Regions from separate parts of the Homo sapiens genome. Here region 1 is linked to region 2. Evidence: fine-mapped expression QTL. Tissue or cell type: whole blood. Region 2 holds a variant in brackets; the other region holds the start of a gene. All regions are shown on one strand. Distances are between the middles of the regions.

Region 1 (5,148 bases), 32 kb before region 2:
CGAGATTGTGCTACTACACTCTAGCCTGGGCAACAGAATGAGACTCCATCTCAAAAATAAAAATAAAAAAATTAAAAAATAGAAAGTAGGAGGGAATAGGAAATAATATCATCTGAGAGGAGCCAAACTAAAGTGAGTCTTGGAAGTCTGGTAGCACAGGTTTGTTCAGTGCACAAGATAGACTTGGTCAGCTGGAAAATATAGACATTCTGCAATATCTGGAATATTGAAAAAAATTAGTATCTCTGAAAGGAGAGATGAGGAAAAACATGAACAAGTTGTACAAAATGTAATTAATTTGTGAGCAAGCATTGAATGTTTACTGAGCCCTTGCTTTGTGCAACGAATTAGGCAAGGAAAATGAGGAAGACATGGTCCTTTATTGGCCAAATAAAGTATGACACATCTATACAATGGGACGGGAGGCAGCCATTAAACAGAACATGGCAGCTCTTAAGGGTACTATATGGAGCAGTCTCCATGTTTTGTTGTTGACAGTTTTATTTATTTTAGAGACAGGGCCTCATTATGTTGCCCAGGCTGGTCTCTAACTCCTGGGCTTAAGAAATTCTCCTGCCAGGCCAGGCACGGTGGTGGCTCATGCCTGTAATCCCAGCACTTTGGGAGGCTGAGGTGGGCAGATTATGAGGTCAGGAGTTTAAGACCAGCCTGGCCAATATGGTGAAACCTCATCTCTACTAAAAAAAAAAAATACAAAAATTAGCCGGGCCTGGCAGCGCACACCTGTAGTCCCAGCTACTCGGGAGGCTGAGGCAGAAGAATCGCTTGAACCCAGGAGGCGGAGGTTGCAGTTAGCTGTGATCATGCCATTGCACTCCAGCCTGGGTGACAGAGCAAGACTCCATCTCAAAAAATAAAAAAAAGAAATCCTCCTGCCTCAGCCTTCCAAAGATTGCTGAGATTACAGGCATGAGCCACTGCACCCGGCATTTTTTATTTTGTTTTGTTTTTTAGAGACAGGGTCCCACTCTGTCACTCAGGTTGGAGTGCAGGGCACAATCATAGCTCACTGCAGCCTCCAACTCCTGGGCTCAAGCCATCCTCCCACCTCAGCCTCCCCAGTAGCTGGGATAACAGACATGTGCCAGTAAGCTCTACTAATTTTTTGTATATGTAGTAGAAATGGGGTTTTGCTACATTGCCCAGGCTGGTCTTGAACTCCTGGCCTCAAGTGATCCTCCCGTCTTGGTCTTCCAAAGTGCTGAGATTATACATGTGAGCCGCCGTGCCCAGCCAAGTTTCTGAGTTTTGTTTATTTTAGAAAGGAGTCTTCCTGTGCTGCCCAGGCTGGTCTCAAATACCTGGGCTCAAGTGATCCTCCAACCTCAGCCTCCCAAATAGTTGGGACTACAGGTGAGCACCACCATGCCTAGCCAATCTCCATGTTTGATTGTTAAGTGGAAAAAGCAAGGTGCACAACAAACATACTATGGTGCTGTTGCTAAAGGAGAAGCACAAGGCCTACACATGTTTCTATTTACAGAGGTAAGCTCTGGAAGGATATACAAAAATCTGGTCACAGAGGTTGTCTCTTGGGAGGAAAAAAAGGGGACTGAGGAGAAATTAAAAAAAGACTTTTCATTGTACATTCTTTTGACCCTATTGTATTTTATATCATTTGCACATTTGCTTATTTAAAAAGTTTTCAGAAATTTAAAAGCAGCTCTTTTTCCAAAGTGCTCCTCACTTCATGTCATGGGTCCTGTATCCTAAGTTCCCCTATTTCAATCACAGTGCAAATTTACCCTCCACAGGCATGCCTTTCCTGCATCTAGACTCACTAGAAATAGCTGATGCATCTCTCCTCCCTTGCCTGCCCTCCACAGGAAAAGAAGCAATGAAAAAAAAGAAAATGAGATCCTCTGGTCTCTGTCACCTTTTTATCAACTTGTACTACCTGCCATTATCTGACACCCACATCTTTTCTTGAATCTGCCTCCTCCTATGGGACAGCGACATTTTCTTAAGTTGCAGATGATGGAGAAAATTTTTTAAAAGAAAAAAAGGGGGCAGGGGGAGGGAAGCCCAGAGTTTGGCCAAATGCACGTTTTTCAAGTTCCTGCTTGAGCTTAGATTCCCTTTCCGCTTTAAGGACATGCCCTCTGGAAAGAAGGGTGTTTTGTTTCCAGCCCACACAGACCCAAACTTTTTTCATCACGTGCCTGGTCCGAGCCAGTACGCAGCTCTGTAATGAGATCACCATGGCCAGCCTCCCACCCGAGCAAAAACAAGGTTAGCCTGCAGCAGAGCCGCAGCAGCAACAGCCACCAAAGCGGGGGCTGAAAGGGAAGAGAACTTAGATTTGACCTGTGCAAGGACCTCAGCAGCTTGGACACAGCCCACTGCAGAGGTAAGTGGGAACTACGGGGGAGGGGTGGTGTTTGCAAAGGTCAGGACATGTCCAGGTTCACTTAAAGTAAGGGCAAAACAACACTCTTCCCACCTCTGCCACCACCCTGTCCTCTCTACTTATGGCAGGGTTAGATTTGCCTCTAAACAGGGTTAGATGGCAGGGTTAGAATTTGTCCTAGGACATTGCTGTAGTGCAGTCGCCTCCTTGTCTCTTACTAATGTCTGTATCCTCTGCCTGTGTTTGTACCATCTACCTCCTCAGTAGTCTAATTTTTCTAGCAATTGACAGGTGATTGTAATGGACAAGTAATTGTTTGACTTTAAAACCATTTGTAAAGGAGCAACTCCTAATTCAGAACTCAAATGAGAGGCAGAACAAACTGGAAGAGACTGTTGGGAAGCAACTGCTGCCTAATTGCTTCTCATCTCTACTCTGCCATCACCAGGAAGGTATGGGGCAAAATACAACAGTTTTAAAGTCTCTGGATAGATGTGTGGGCTATGAGCTAGACAAGTAGGTTGAAACTGTTTTGATGCAACATACTTGGATTTACCAACAGTGGCTCCAGTTGTGAAATCGTTAGTGGCTTGATAGTACCTATGGAAACACTCCACGAAGGTTATTGAGTAAAGGGCATACAGTAAAGTGTGTAGGTGGAGATGAACAATAGAACAGTGGCTTTCAGGACCTTCTGGGGCTTAAGGCAAGCAAGACAAGATGCTGATTTGTGGGTTGCTTCAGTTTCATGTGCAATTCCAATTAAATTTCTTTGAGTGGGATATACAGATTCAATTCAATTTGCTAAAACACAGATGCACTGAGCATCAGCTTCTAACTTTAGTTACGAAAGTAATTAGCACAAGGGAATGGTGCTAAAATGTTCCATAGCAAATGTTGAACACTTTTTGAGGGCAAAAAGCAATGCTTTTGATTCGTGTATCTCTTATTTATTCGGCAAATCTTTCTTGAGTATCTTCTACATGCCAGGCTTGGGCTTGATTCTGTGGATCTCGTGGTAAACAAGACAGGCAGATTCTCGGCCTCATGGACATGCAATCAAGCAGAACAGTAAGCTCAAAGGGTGCAAGTACCATGCAGCAAAAGGAGTGAAGAGAGTATTACTAAAACTGGCCCATGGGAATCATTTTTAACCTTTCCTTTCATGCATTTCATCTTCTGTTTTTGTTTTTTTTGTTTTTTGAGATGGAATCTCGTTCTGTCACCCAGGCTGGAGTACAGTGGCGCGATTTCAGCTCACTGCAACCTCCACCTCCTGGGTTCAAGAGATTCTCCTGCCTCAGCCCCCCAAGTAGCTGGGATTACAGGTGCCCGCCACCACACCCAGCTAATTTTCGTATTTTTAGTAGAGATGGGGTTTCACCATGTTGGCCAGGCTGGTCTCCAACTCCTGACCTCAGGTGATCTACCCACCTCGGCCTCCCAAAGTTATGAGATTACAGGCATAAGCCAACGTGCCCAGCCGCATTTCATCTTTGTTTTTTTTTGTTTTTTTGAGACAGACTCTTGCTCTGGCGCCCAGGCTGGAGTGCAGTGGCATGATCTTGGCTCACTGCAACCTCCGCCTCCCAGGTTCAAGCGATTCTCCTGTCTCAGCCTCCAGAGCAGCTGGGATTACAGGCGTGCACCACCACACCCGGCTAATTTTTATATTTTTAGTAGAGACGGAGTTTCGCCATGTTGGCCAGGCTGGTCTCAAACTCCTGACCTCAGGTGATCTGCCCACCTCGGCCTCCCAAAGTGCTGGGATTACAGATGCGAGCCACCGCTCCTGGCCGCATTTCATCTTCTTAAATGAATATCGGCCACTCTATCTTCTATATAAGCCTCAGATTAGTACAGATGTTGAGTCATAGCAGCTCCTCAAAACCCTCTTCACCAGAGGCTTTAAACTGTGTAATTACATTACAGGTCAGTCTCCTCAGCCCTGGAGGTCGACTGCTCAGCTTTTTCCTAGCATACAGTCTGAGAGCAGAGGCTGAAGTAAGGGGAGTTCTAATCTTTGGGTCAGTTGCCCTCTCCCTGTGTCATTTCTTATGAAATAGAAGTTATGCTATTCCCAAAATACATACAGCACTAGGCAAAGTGTTAAGAAGCCTAGATTTTGCCAGAAACCATGTGGAGTTTGGAGCAAGTCATTTCTACTAACTAGGGCTTCCTCCTTAGCTTATAAAATGGAAGGGGTAGACCAGATGAACATGAGGTCTTTTTTCTCCCCCCTCTAAGAGTAAATTGTCTCAACAATTTTACAAGTTGTTTACAAAACAATACACATTCACATAAAGGTGATGTATTTATATCTATAAAATAGGAACATTCAGTAGGCCGGGCATGGTGGCTCACGCCTGTAATCCCAGCACATTGGGAGGCCGAGGCGGGCGGATCACAAGGTCAGAAGATCAAGACCATCCTGGCTAACATGGTGAAACCCTGTCTCTACTAAAAATACAAAAAATTAGCCAGGCGTGGTGGCAGGCACCTGTGGTCCCAGCTACTCGGGAGGCTGAGGCAGGAGAATGGCATGAACCCGGGAGATGGAGCTTGCAGTGAGCCAAGATCGCGCCACTGCACTCCAGCCTGGGTGACAGAGCAAGACTCTGTCTCAAAAAAAAAAGGAACATTCATCAATCATGCAGAATATCCAGGAAACAAGAATATGAAAGAAAATCTGGGCCAGGCGCAGTGGCTCATGCCTGTAATTCCAGCACTTTGGGAGGCCAAGGTGGGTGTATCACCTGAGGTCAGGAGTTCAAGAC
Region 2 (5,148 bases):
ACTGGTATCTCAGTTTACATGTGAGTGCTAGTTGGGGAAGAGGTCTGATGGCTGGGAAAATAACCACACTGGGATGACCTTACTCTTTTCCTTCTGAAATTGGGTCCTCCTCCAACTGGGGGTTTTAAACCTTTATTTGGACTCTGGGCCCTTTGAATAAGCTCTGGACATTCTCTTTAGAAAAGTACATATATGCATAAAACTCCTGCAGGCAATCACAAGGAAGTCATGTATCTCTGAAAGCCCCAGACTTTTTCAAGTGTAGTCTACAAACCTCCTATACCAGAATCACCTGAGATGCTTGTTTAAAATATAGGCTCTTGAATTCCACTCCAAATATGCTGAACTAAGGTATCTGGGGGAGCAGGGCCTGGAAACCTGCATTTTAGTTAAGTGTTCCAGGGGATTCTGATGCTGGTGATCTCATACCTGAAGAAGCCTAGTTCTGCTAGAGATTCTCAGACTGTGGGCATCAATCACACAGCAAGCTTTTCAAAGGAGGACTCCAGATACGGCAAATTGCAGGTTTGGAGTGGCCCCCGGGAGATGCATTGGTAGCAACTCCCCAGCTTATTCTGATGCAGATGGTCAGGATGGTGGTGACAGGTGTGGGGTAGGAGGGCTGAGAAATGTGTGAGGCTGGCACAAATGAAATGGGATCTGCACGGAAGCCTCCAGCATGGGCACTGCAGTGCCGTCCTCTCTCTTCTAGGTTCAACCAGTGCTATGGGGTGCTGGGTGTGCTGGACCACCTCCATGGGACTGACACCATGTTCAAGCAGACCAAGGCCTACGAGAGACATGTCCTCCTGCTGGGCTTCACCCCGCTCTCTGAGAGCATCCCAGACTCCCCAAAGAGGATGGAGTGAGAGACAGCCTAAGTGTCATCCTGGCTGTCCCTCAGCCATGGGATGCAGACACGGCTTCCTGATTGCACCTAACAATTTGCCTCCTTCGGCCACACGCCCTAATGATGGCACCACCAGGGTAGAGGGAAGGTCGGCTTCCCGGAAAAGCAGGGCCAAGGATGAGGCTTTCTTCAAACTACTGCCCTTGATGTCCCTCAATGGGATCAGGAGTTAGCTTAAGAAAAAGGAAAACACAGCTCCCCAGACTGGAGGCTGGTCAGAGGGAGGAGACCCCTGGTCCTCTGCTGTGGAAGGAGAGGGGTTCAGCCCCAGATAACTCCTTTGTGGCCTGGGCAGGATGCAGAGAATGACAAGGCTGAAAGGAGGGGGACTGGAGGCTGCCTGGCTCCAGCGAGAGCTCCTTCTGGGACCAGAGGGTGGGACGGCCAGGTATCACTTTGCCCCTTCCTGCCCCAAAAGGCTTTCACATACCCGACTCAGGCCAGAGCCAAGACACCCTGGCAAATCATTATAGGTCTCAATTCATGACATACCAGATGCCAGTCGCCACTTCACCCAACACACACACAAACATACACACACCAAACACTCTGAGTGAGTGGTAAAGGCCCCGTTTTAACTCTGGCCCACCGCAAACAAAAGGTTTCCCTCTGTGGGGGAGAAAAAGAAATCCAGGAGCTCCTCCCTGGATTAAAACCAACGAGGTGCAGACCAAACTTTAACACCTTTAGCCTTATGTGGAAACCAAAAACCAACTGCTGGGAAACTGTGAAAAGCCCTTTTACCCACAAGGGGAGGGGTCAAAGTTGCTGCCCTTTGGGGACACCCGAGACCCCTAATTAGCCTATCTGAATGAGGACCAAAGGTTAGAGCCCTCTTTCTCCCCGAAGAAAGAGCCCGGAAAAACATGGCAGAGCAAAGAGCAAAATCCTTTCTCCCCCGAATGCTTTACCAGTTTCTCAGCAACATTTATTCAAGATGATTTTTACCAGGAACCTTATCAAAGGCAAAACCACAGCTGCTTGGGTTGAAGTCCCCATCCTGGCCTCCTCTCAGCCGCCAGACATGGCCAGGAACCCTGTGGTTCCCAAGAACAATTTAAAGATCACTCTTTGATTTGAAAGACCACCATTATCATTTTACTAAATTCTTATATATACTTGTGCCTTTTCCAACTTTCAGTTCTCTTAAGAAAAACATCCACTGTAGCTTTATAAAATACCTTAGTATCAGCTAGGTCCAAGTCTCCAGGCAGGACTATCAAAATGGACTCCTTCTTCCTATCAGCTCTAGAACCCCAGAGGACTTGCCCAGTAGGCCAGCTGAGCACTTACCAGGCAGCATCTCCCTGGCCTTCCACAGTCTCGCCTGTCTGTCTCTGGCCTTGGTGGACCTGGCTCCCTCCCTAGGAGGCTTTTGCCCTCAGCTTGAATACAGTTCCTGGTGCATCAAAGCTGTAAGTTCTCAGCTGCTGGCCTGCACTCATCACCTCTTCCTACAAATAAACATTTGGAAAAAAGTCCATCTTCAATATGCTTAAAGAGAAGGGTAGGAGATAAGGAGAAAGAACAGATAC[G/A]GTTTTTTTCCCCTTTAAGGCCTTTAGATTTTGAGGTACTGTAAGGGGCCTAGAAGGACAAAAGGCTTTCATTCCCTCTTCCTTTTGGCAGGCAGGTTATCAGTCCTTGGCAGAAGGGCCCAGCCCTATCCTTTTCTGTATCAAACAAAATCCTTGAGGTTGGTATACAAGTTAAGGCTGAAAAAAGGCCTTAAATTCCCAGTAAAGAATGTGAAAGCAAGCATGTAAAATAAACTGGTCTTCATGAATTCCAGTGGATAATTTTTTTTTGAAGGGAGGTGTCTACTACAAGACTTCTAATACTTCAGACATAGCATTTGGAAGCTCAGGCTGTGAAATTAAGCTGCTGTGAGCATTCCTAACGATAATTTGTGAAAGTAAGTTTCAATTAATTCATCTTTCTGTTTTCAAAGTACCAATCCGTCTGCATCAGCCCTGGACACTATCTCCTAAACTTTCCTTTGGCCTGTGGAGGTCACTGGTGGTACTGAAGTACCTGCCAACCTCAAGAACAGTGAAAAAGCACTCTCTGGAAAAACCATTTACCCAAGCCAGGTATGGGAGACAGTTGTCAGATGAACACGTAAATAAGGCCATGCCCCATTTTTAGTTTTGTAATTTATACGGGGAATGGGGGACTCTTTGTTCCATCCCTCCCCAGCATCACATCTCAGGGTTCGGGGCTGACCAGGATTCCGTAAGTCCACATGGTGCTGGATCATTCCTCCTTCACCCCCCTGTGGAAAAGTCTGTTCATAGAGGGGTTGTGGCAACCCTCCATAAGAAGCCTCATCGTTTTTCTTCTTGGCTGTCTCATAACACAATGCAGGCCACAGCCAGGGGATGGAAAACCTGGAAGCTGACAAGTGCGCTGAAATCCTGGCATTATGCTGGACTGCTGTTTTGTGGCACTGGCTATGACTGTCACGTCTCACTTAAGACACAGGGTGGACATGAACTCAAGGCTTGTAGAAGCCCCTGCCTTAGGCAGACTCCTCGAAGCCCAATGGCAGAACCCCTGCCGAGGTTTCATGTGCACATTGAGTGCAGGGTTCCTCCGGATCTGGGGGAACTCTACCAGAAACCCATCCTTCACACCCAATAGCAGTAACCTAGATGGAAGACCAGCCAGTATTTTGCCTTTTCAAGTGTTTATTTTTATACATTTTTTTGTATTAAAAAGAAAAGCATAATTACCACAAATTACAAAGGACTAAAGCAGGACTAGAATAATGAATGAATCACTTCAGCCTGGAAAGCAGATACTCTCAATAATATTAATGTTATAATACAAGCTCATTCAAGTATTTTACATTTTTTTGTCCTTTTAAATATGATATCCTAGCACATAGTAAAGATAATGTACTACGAGCGTAAGGTGGAACCTTCTCCGCAAAGCCAGATGACAAGTTTTCCTCTCCAGTGAGAAATGGGCTCCAAGTTCTTATCTTCTCTGCCATCAGCATGGCTGAAGGGGGAGAGGGTGGGTGTTAGGGAAAATCCAGGGACCCTTCCACACAGGAGGTACTCTGGGGTTCCATTCAGGAGGGTGCCAGATAATTCAGATCACTCTACCCAGGCTTTTTGGCAAAAAACAACCCTCACCCTCCGTAACTAGTCATCTTCCTTGTCCCTCCTCCTCACTTCCCTTCCAGGGCCTTCTAAGCAGCTTACTTTCTTTTGTAAAATCAATCACCAGGAAAGGGGAAAAAAAAAAAAAAAGAGCTACAATGGAACAAAACAAAAACATTTAACAACTTTGACACAGGGGCTCAGCACCTCTATCTGAGCCCCAGGGGTCCAGGCTGGGGCACGGCTGGATGGCCCTTCTCTACTGGTAGTGCCTTTGCTCCCAAGTGCAGGAAGAGGGCTAAAGAGAAACCTGCCCCTTAACAGGGCTGAGGCACACAGACCTGCTGATGTCTGATGCCCAGAGGTTATGTTGGCATGGACCAACCTTGGAAGGGATAGGATGAACAGAGGGATCTGGGCAGGCTGTTGCTTTATCTCAGGTCTTGGATCCCCATGGGACGATGGTAGGTGTGAAGTGGTTAGCCCTGATGGCCCCTGCCACTTCTGGCATGCTTGTCACAGATACATCGGTCCTAAATTCAAGTGTCTTCAGAAAGTGAAGATGTAAACTACTCTTTGCAACATTAACTCCTAACATGTTACCAAAAACAAAAACAAAAACAAAAACAAAAAAAAAGGAAAGAAAAGAAAAAGCTCCCCTACCAACCACCAGCCGATGTTGAGATGAAGTCCTCACCTCCCTGCCCCAAAGGGGCTTCCTTTCAGGGATGTCTGTGAAGAAGATGGCAGCCCCCTGGCCTGGGAGTAAACTCTAGGTAATAACAGCCTTTCCCCATACCCTAAGGCTTCCTTGTGCCCCAAACCAGCAGAGGAAAAACACTGAGGTTTCTGTGGTGCTGGATACAGTACAGGGCTGCGTGACCTGAAGGAAAGAAAGGAAAGGAGAAGGGGGTCCAGGAATCCAGTGTCCGGTACAATGTGGGGCAGGCACCAGACTGGGCAGGGAAAGGCCTCGGATACCACCATCATAGCAGAGACCAGACGCTCATCCTTGGTTTGAGACATGAAGTCACAGGAACTGAGATGGGCTTCCCACATACCAACCACTGGGAGGGCAAAGGTGGGGAAGGGCACAGGCTAAAAATTAACAAGGTGCCCAAGGTAAAGGGC

The links. PIP is the estimated chance that this variant, and not a neighbour inherited with it, causes the effect.
Region 1: FAXDC2 starts here. The variant in region 2 is fine-mapped to the expression of FAXDC2 in whole blood (TOPMed, PIP above 0.99).

What each region holds. Positions count from the first base shown.
Region 1 is chr5:154,847,706-154,852,853 of GRCh38, reverse strand. FAXDC2 (fatty acid hydroxylase domain containing 2) reads left to right here and starts at 2,251. Exons shown (of 9, transcript NM_032385.5): 1 at 2,251-2,371.
Region 2 is chr5:154,816,037-154,821,184 of GRCh38, reverse strand. LARP1 (La ribonucleoprotein 1, translational regulator) reads right to left here. Exons shown (of 19, transcript NM_033551.3): 19 at 3,580-5,148. It overlaps FAXDC2 (fatty acid hydroxylase domain containing 2), which reads left to right. Exons shown (of 9, transcript NM_032385.5): 9 at 713-2,693. The coding sequence ends at 869. Among named protein-coding and RNA genes, the nearest start is that of MIR378H, 11 kb to the left of the region's middle. The variant G/A (reference allele first, on the strand shown) is at 2,446.